2 linked regions of the Homo sapiens genome follow. Changing the gene in region 2 together with the main gene of any one other region gives a genetic interaction. Each region holds a gene or a part of one and is shown on either strand. Other genes may lie near its edges. The genes, in order: ALDH2 and RAD23B.

Region 1 (3,822 bases), on a different chromosome or scaffold from region 2:
AGTTTGAAAGTGGGCTTCAAATTCTGCCCTGCCCAACCTTCACACACATGCCCTTAGTTATACTTAATGTGAACTTGACCTCCCTGAGCCTCAGTTTCCTCACCCGCAAGACGGGACAGCAATACTACCAGGCTTATAGAGTTGCGGGTAGGATGAAAGGTGAAATGCAGGTAGAAGTCCTCAGTAGAGGGCCTGATGGAAAATAGGTGATGAATAATCATGATTACTGGAGCAGGGAATACATACACATGTCCACAACATGTAAATTCTCAACTCAGCTTGACCTCAGGAGCACAAACATTATTATAGCCCTGTCACCTGAAACTCAAGTGTGTCCCACAGATTCTGGGCAGGCAGGAAGTATTGAATGCCCATTTGTGTTCTCTGATTAAAAACACGGGCCGGCCACGGTGGCTCATGCCTGTAATCCCAGCACTTTGGGAGGCTGAGGCGGGCGGTGTCACTGGGCCCCACCACAACCTCCGCCTCCTGGGTTCAAGCGTTTCTCCTGTCTCAGCCTCCCAGGTAGCTGGGATTACAGGTACATGCCACCACACCGGCCAATTTTTGTATTTTTAGTAGAGACGGGGTTTCATCATATTGGTCAGGCTGGTCTCCACCTGAGGTGATCCGCCTGCCTCGGCCTCCCAAGGTGCTGGGATTACAGGCATGAGCCACCACACCCAGCCTGCCTAAATCTATTTCTTTTTGTTTTTTTTTTTTGAGACGGAGTCTCACTCTGTCACTAGGCCTCACTCTTATGCCAGGGCATGAGCTGCCATGCCCGGCCACCTAAATCTATTTCTATAGAGGCTCTTAAAACTCCTAGCTGGATGTTGTGGCCCATGCCTATAATCCCAGTGCCTCTAGTGGCTGACGCAGGAGGATCGCTTCAGCCCAAGAGTTTGAGGTTGCAGTGAGTTATGATCATGCCATTGCACTCCAGCCTGGGCAACAGAGCAAGACCCTGTCTCAAAAAAAAAAAAAAAAACCAAAAAAAAAAGAGGCCAGGTGCAGTGGCTCACGCCTGTAATCCCAGCACTTTGGGAGGCCAAGGCGGGTGGATCACAAGGTCAGGAGTTTGAGACTAGCCTGGCCAACATGGTGAAACCCCAACTCTACTAAAAATACAAAATTAGCTGGGCATGGTGGCGGCACCCGTAATCCCAGCTACTCAGGAGGCTGAGGCAGGAGAATCGCTTGAACCCGGGAGGCAGAGGTTGCAGTGAGCCGTGATCGTGCCACTGCACTCCAGCCCGGGCGACAGAGTGAGACTACATCTCAAAAACAAAAACAAAAACAAAGGACACTCCTAAAGAAGTCATCAACCTGTACAATCAATAGGGAGATTCAGTCAGCACAAAGTCACTCCAAAACACAGGTTTTGGCTCATTCTGTAAGAATCTCCCAGGCAAACAAGAAAAAGCAAATTTCTGCTTCAGATATACCGTTAACAGTGATTATCTGCAGGGGTGGCACATCAGGGGACCATTATATTTTTTCTTTTTTCTTTTAATATCTGCTCATGGGGTATTAAGTTTTTTTTGTTTTTTGGGGAGTTTTTTTTCAGACGAAGTGTCACTCTGTCACCCAGGCTGGAGTACAGTGGTGCGATCTCGGCTCACTGCAACCTCTGCCTCCCGGGTTAAAGTGATTCTCATGCCTCAGCCTCCGGAGTAGCTGGGATTACAAGCGTGGGCTACCAGGCCTAGCTAATTTTTGTATTTTTAGCAGAGTCAGGGTTTCACCATGTTGGTCAGGCTGGTCTCGAACTCCTGTGCTCAAGCAATCTGCCCGCCTCAGCCTCCCAAAGTGCGGAGATTACAGGCGTGAGCCACCGTGCCTGGCCAATTTTTAAAGAAATCAAACATTTAAATGAAGCCAGAGTCCTCGTTCATCACTACCCTTATCCTGTCCTGCCCACTCAGGCAGTAACCACCCTCACACCAAGGAGAATTTTCCTTCCAGCACATTCTTACACATTTTTTATGGAGATCTGTCTATCTACATACAACATAAAGTTTTGTACAGTTTTCATGGTTTCATATGGTGTAGAGTGCTGGACATTTTTCCTCCTTGACATATTGTTTTTGAGATACATTATTTGTACAGGTTGAGCCAATGATTTGTAACTGCTACATGCAGAGGATTATTTCCTCCTATAACTGTAACATAGGTGTTCATCTATTTCCCAATGGAGCTCGAGCTGGCTTATTTCCTAAGCTTTTACTGACATAAAAGAAGTTGCAATGAACATTTCTGTATGGTGCCTATGTATACTTGCAGTGTTGCCCAGGATGGAGTGCAGTGGCAAGATCAAAGCTCACTGAAGCCTCAAACTCCTTGGCTCAAGCAATCCTCCTGCCTCAGCCGCCCAAGTAGCTGTGACTACAGGTGCTCACCACCATGTCCAGCTAATTTTTTTAAGCTTTTGTAGAGATGGAGTTTTGCTATGTTGCCCAGGCTGGTCTCGAACTCCTGGGGTTAAGCAATCTTCCCACCTTAGCCTCTGAAAGTGCTGGGATTACAGCTGTGAGCCACCACACCTAGCCTTGGGAAATCCATCCTTAATTGCCTGTCAGTTCTCTCTTTAGTTCAGTGCTTCACACTGTAATCCCAGCACTTTGGGAGGCCAAGGAGGGAAGATTGCTTGAGCCTAGAAGTTCAAGACCCAGCCTGGGCAACATGGCAAAACCCCATCTCTATAAAAATTATAAAAAATTGGCTGGCTGCAGTGCCTTAATCCCAGCACTTTGGGAGGCCAGGGCAGGTGGATCACCTGAGGCCAGGAGTTCAAGACCAGCCAGCCTGGCCAACATGGCGAAACCTCATCTCTACTAAGAATACAAAAAAATTAGCCAGGCGTGGTGGTGGGCACCTGTAATCCTAGCTACTCAGGAGGCTCAAGCAGGAGAATCGCTTGAACCCAGGAGGTGGAGGTTAGAGTGAGCCAAGATCACACCACTGCACTCCACCCTGGGCAACAGAGCAAGAGTCTGTCTCAAATAAATAAAATAAAATAAAAAATACAAAAATTAGTCAGGTGTGGTGGGGTATGCCTGTAGTCTCAGCTACTTGGAAGACTGAAGTAGGAGGATAACTTGTTGACTGAGCCTGGGAGGTTGAGGCTGCAGTGAGCACTACTACACTCCAGCCTGGGCAACAGTGAGAGACCCTGTCTCAAAACAAAAACAAAAACAGAAAGAGAGGGTAAGAATAAAGATGCAAGTTTTAATTCACCCCAAACTCCCATTCTACTTTACCACAATCTAGCTCACCCCTTCAGGAAACAAACTGCAAATACAACAGCATCCATATCAAATGGAGTTTGATCACCAAGACACTGCAAGTCCACAGCGTCACTGTTATCCCAGCTCCTGCTTAAGGCTGCAGTCAATATGGAGGCACCAGTGGCCATGAAGCCAGCACTGCCTGTGGCTGCAGAAGCCTCACCCCATTTGGTCCTCACAGCAATTCGGTGATGCAGATGGAATTTTACCCCCCACATTTTTTTTTTTTTTTGAGATGGAGTCTCGCTCTGTCACCCAGGCTGGAATGCAGTAGTGTGATCTCGGCTCACTGCAACCTCTGCCTCCCAGGTTCAAGTGATGCTCCTGCCTCAGCCTCCCAAGTAGCTGGGATTACAGGTGCGCGCCACCATGCCCAGCTAATTTTTGTATTTTCAGTAGAGACAGGGTTTCACTATGTTGGCCAGGCTAGTCTCGAACTCCTGACCTCGTGATCCGCCTGCTTCAGTCTTGCAAAATGCTGGGATTACAGGTGTGAGCCACTGCACCCAGCCATTTTACCCCATTTTACAGA
Region 2 (3,822 bases):
CTGTACCACTTGCTGTGTCACCTCAGGCAAGTTACTCAGTATGTGCCTTTTGGTCCTCTGCTGTAAAATGAGAATACTAGTATGAAAGTACTAACTTATTGGTATATGGGTTTTGAAATAATATTAACAGTGCTTGGCAATGTGGTACCACTCTCCCTCCATTGTTCTTGCTTAGAAAGCCTCAAATGTGATTAAATTCAACTCAGTGTTTGTACTTGCACCTGAGTGGCCAGAGATGCACCTTGTAGCCACATTGACTTGTCTTGCTTAAATTTATGAACATTAAGGAACTTAAGTTCATGAGCACTAAGGAACATTAAGGCACACTAAGGAACCTTAATTGGGTCCTTAGTATGCAGCACCTGACAGTCTTACAGTTTACTAGTCCAGTCACTCTTCCACTGCCACAGGATGCTTTCATATCATCTAGCCTGCTTATTTTCACTTGATGACCCTAGTCTTTATTTGATTGAGAATTTGGAAATAATCGAGACAGAATGTCTACAAGGTCCTACCGTAGCTACCTACCTGCTAGCCTCTTCTTACTGTAGATAGTTCTGAATTGTGGGCGGTGCTATCTAAGGCAGGTCCTTCCACTTTTCCACTGTACCTCATCCCCTGTCATGTGTGAAGGACATCACTCCATCAGATCTTTTCTCTTCATCACTGATTTTTCCCATTTCTAGGGTATACAAACATTTTTCCCCATCTTAATGATACACTCCCTTGTGTCCACATCCCTCTTTAGCTGCTGCCCTATTTCCCTGCTTCTCAAGAAAATTCAGGAGTATCTCTTAATTCTGTTTACTTTTTTCCACATCTTGCTCTTTTCAGATCCACCATACTGTTCCTAAAAGGGAGTCCTCACAACTTTGTACTTGTGCTTTGTCCTTAAGCACAATACTTTTAAAAAAGTCTTTCTCCTCTTTATTAAAATGAGAGTAATAATAATTGAACTGCTTTCCTAACAGTTGTGAAAATCAGGTGAGATCATGGGCATGGAAATATTTAGTGAATTGTGAAATTAGAAATAAATTTTGCAGTTTTTAAACAAATCCTGCTTTCATCAGTTTTTATTTCGATCATTTCACTATTCTTTCTTTAAAAGGTTTGTATGAATGAGATATTCTCATTTTCTTAGATTGACATAATCAGCAATTTTGAACAGTGTGTAAAATCAATGAACAAGGTCCTGCCGCGATAGATGCCGTATAGGATTCCAGTTAATTTCTGAAAGAAATTTGCTAAATTTAACCCTACTGTGGCACAGTGAATCGTACGAAGGACACTACACCATCTGTTCCCTGTAAGTTTAGATAAATAAATGTTTTTTATAGTGTCACGAAAGCTAATTTTACAACTGAATGAGCTTTATAAAACTTGTAAACATTGTATAAACTTATTTCGAGGAGGTAGACCAGCTACAAATGACTGACAATACATGAACAGATTCTGGAGGCTTAAACAGGTAGATAAAGTTGTTCTCACCAATTATTCCCCACACACTTCTGGTTGAATTAGGTAGGCACCTTGTTTTTGCTAGTGCACTGGCGAGATCCATTCTTTGCCTATATAGAAACTTACAGGTATCTTGGGAATTCTGCTTACTCAGTTTTCAAATTCCTGTGTTTCTTTTGGTCTTGTTGAAATCATACTGTTAGGAATATATTTTATAATAGATTAAATTGGCATGAATTGGTTGGCTTAATTTCTGTGGGACAAATGGGTTTTGGATTTCAAATCATATATTTAAAATAATAGCCTTTTGGATCATAACCCCAGTTTGAGGATTGCCTTTGTTATAGTGCCTGCCTCTTCTCACATAATTAATGTTATGCTATCAGTTATTGTTTCAATTGTAAAAATCTCCTGTACTAAATTATTTTATTCCTTGGGTCCAGTGAGGAGATTTTTCCTATTTGTACTGAAGTCAGCTGACATTTTTAAAATCAAATTTGTATTTGTAGAAATATCAGGAACCTACCTTGGGACAGAAATTCCCCAGGAAATACTCTGGTGCCTGTACCAGTTTCTCAAGTGGAAGGAGAAGAACCGAAGAACCAAAAAAGAAAAAGCATTACCTGTAGTGTAAACATAAGAAATCCTTTAGTACACATTTGGCTTTGGGAATCTCCTTTATTTTGCTAATTGTTGATTGCCAAAATTTAATTGCTGCTATTATTTTTTAATTAGGCCGTGTAGTATTAGAACTGCCTTAGACCTTTTTCTTTTAAATGAAATCTCTTTTTCTCTTTGAAAGTCCAGTTTTCCCTAAATTACTCAAGTAATTCAGGCTCATTATAGTAAATAAAGTATAGTAAAATGAGAATGGCTTTTGCCATCGGTCTAAGGAACCACTGTAGACTCTGTATATCCCTCTAGTCTTTTCAAAAAATACATTTACACATAATACATGAACACAACTACACTATTTGTTTAAAAAAATTAATTAGCAACTAGCTTTTTTTCCTCAAACATAGTTATAAATATTCATTTATATTGCATAATGTTCAAATGAATTTATGTACATTAATTTATTTTACCATTTCTCCTTTGTGGATGTTTAGGGTGGTTTTCAGTTTTTAGTATTGCAAAAAGCAATGTAGTGCACATACTTTGTACCTTTGTCTTTGAAGTAGTTACATGAGCACCTCTAGCATTGATTTCTAGATGCGAAATTATTTGGTCAAAGTGTGGCAGATTGCCTTTAAAAATGCCTGGTCAGGCTGAGCGCCGTGGCTTATGCCTGTAATCCCAGCACTTTGGGAGGCTGAGGTGGGCGGATCACGAGGTCAGGAGTTCGAGACCCTCCTGGCCAATGTGATGAAACCCTGTCTCTACTAAAAATACAAAAAATTAGCTAGGTGTGGTGGCGTGCACCTGTAGTCTCAGCTACTTGGGAGGCTGAGGCAGGAGAATCGCTTGAACTCGTGAGGTGGAGGTTGCAGTGAGCCAAGATCGTGCCACTACACTCCAGCCTGGTGACAGAGCGAGACTCTGTCAAAAAAAAAAAAAAAAAAAAAAGCCTGGTCAGTACTTACACACATTAACAATACTTGTTATTTACAAATACCATCTCCCATATGAGTAGCCAGGATTCAAATTTAGAGACTCTGCCTCTAGAGCCTGTATGTTTAACCTTTTTATTTCATCTGCCTTAGTGTCCCCATTAGAAAAAGAGGATAATAGTATCTACCTGTGTACTAGTTAACCTATTACTGCATAACAAATTACCCCAAAACTTAATTAGAACAGTAAACACTTACTATTTCATAATTTCTGTGAGTCAGAAATTCAGGGATATTTTAGCTGTGTGGTTCTTACTCAAGAGTCTCAGGAAGTTGGATTTAAGGACTTCATTCTATGCATTAAAGGCTTGACTGGCTGGAGGGTTCCCACTGAAAGTGACTTCCTCACATGGCTAACAGCTTGGTGATGGTTATTGACTGGAGGCCTCAGATCCTCCCCATATGTCCTCATGACATTGTGGCTGGCTTCTCCCAGTGTTAGTGATCCAAGAGAGCAAAATAGAAACGATGGCTTTTATATATAAACCAGCCTCAGAAGTCACACTTTTACTTCAGCAGTATCTTACTGTTCTTGTGGACTAGCCATAATTTAGTATGTGAAGGGTATGTACCAAAGGCTTGAATACCAAGAGATGGGAGTCATTGGGGGCCATCTTGGGTGTTGGCTACTACAACCTCATAGAGATGTAGTACAGATTAAAAGAGTTAATTATTGTGAGGCTCTTAGTACACTGCCTGGCATATGGCAAGTACATAGCCTGCATTAGCTTTTATTCAGATGTTATATTTCAGG

What was found.
Region 1: changes in RAD23B (region 2) and ALDH2 are lethal when combined (synthetic lethality), as found in Homo sapiens cells (one large-scale study listed by BioGRID).

Annotation. Positions count from the first base shown.
Region 1 is NC_000012.12:111,769,844-111,773,665, reverse strand, and holds part of ALDH2 (aldehyde dehydrogenase, mitochondrial isoform 1 precursor), read right to left. Parts: intron 1-3,822. UniProt on the Homo sapiens protein: Required for clearance of cellular formaldehyde, a cytotoxic and carcinogenic metabolite that induces DNA damage.
Region 2 is NC_000009.12:107,289,675-107,293,496, forward strand, and holds part of RAD23B (UV excision repair protein RAD23 homolog B), read left to right. Parts: intron 1-3,822. UniProt on the Homo sapiens protein: Multiubiquitin chain receptor involved in modulation of proteasomal degradation. Binds to polyubiquitin chains.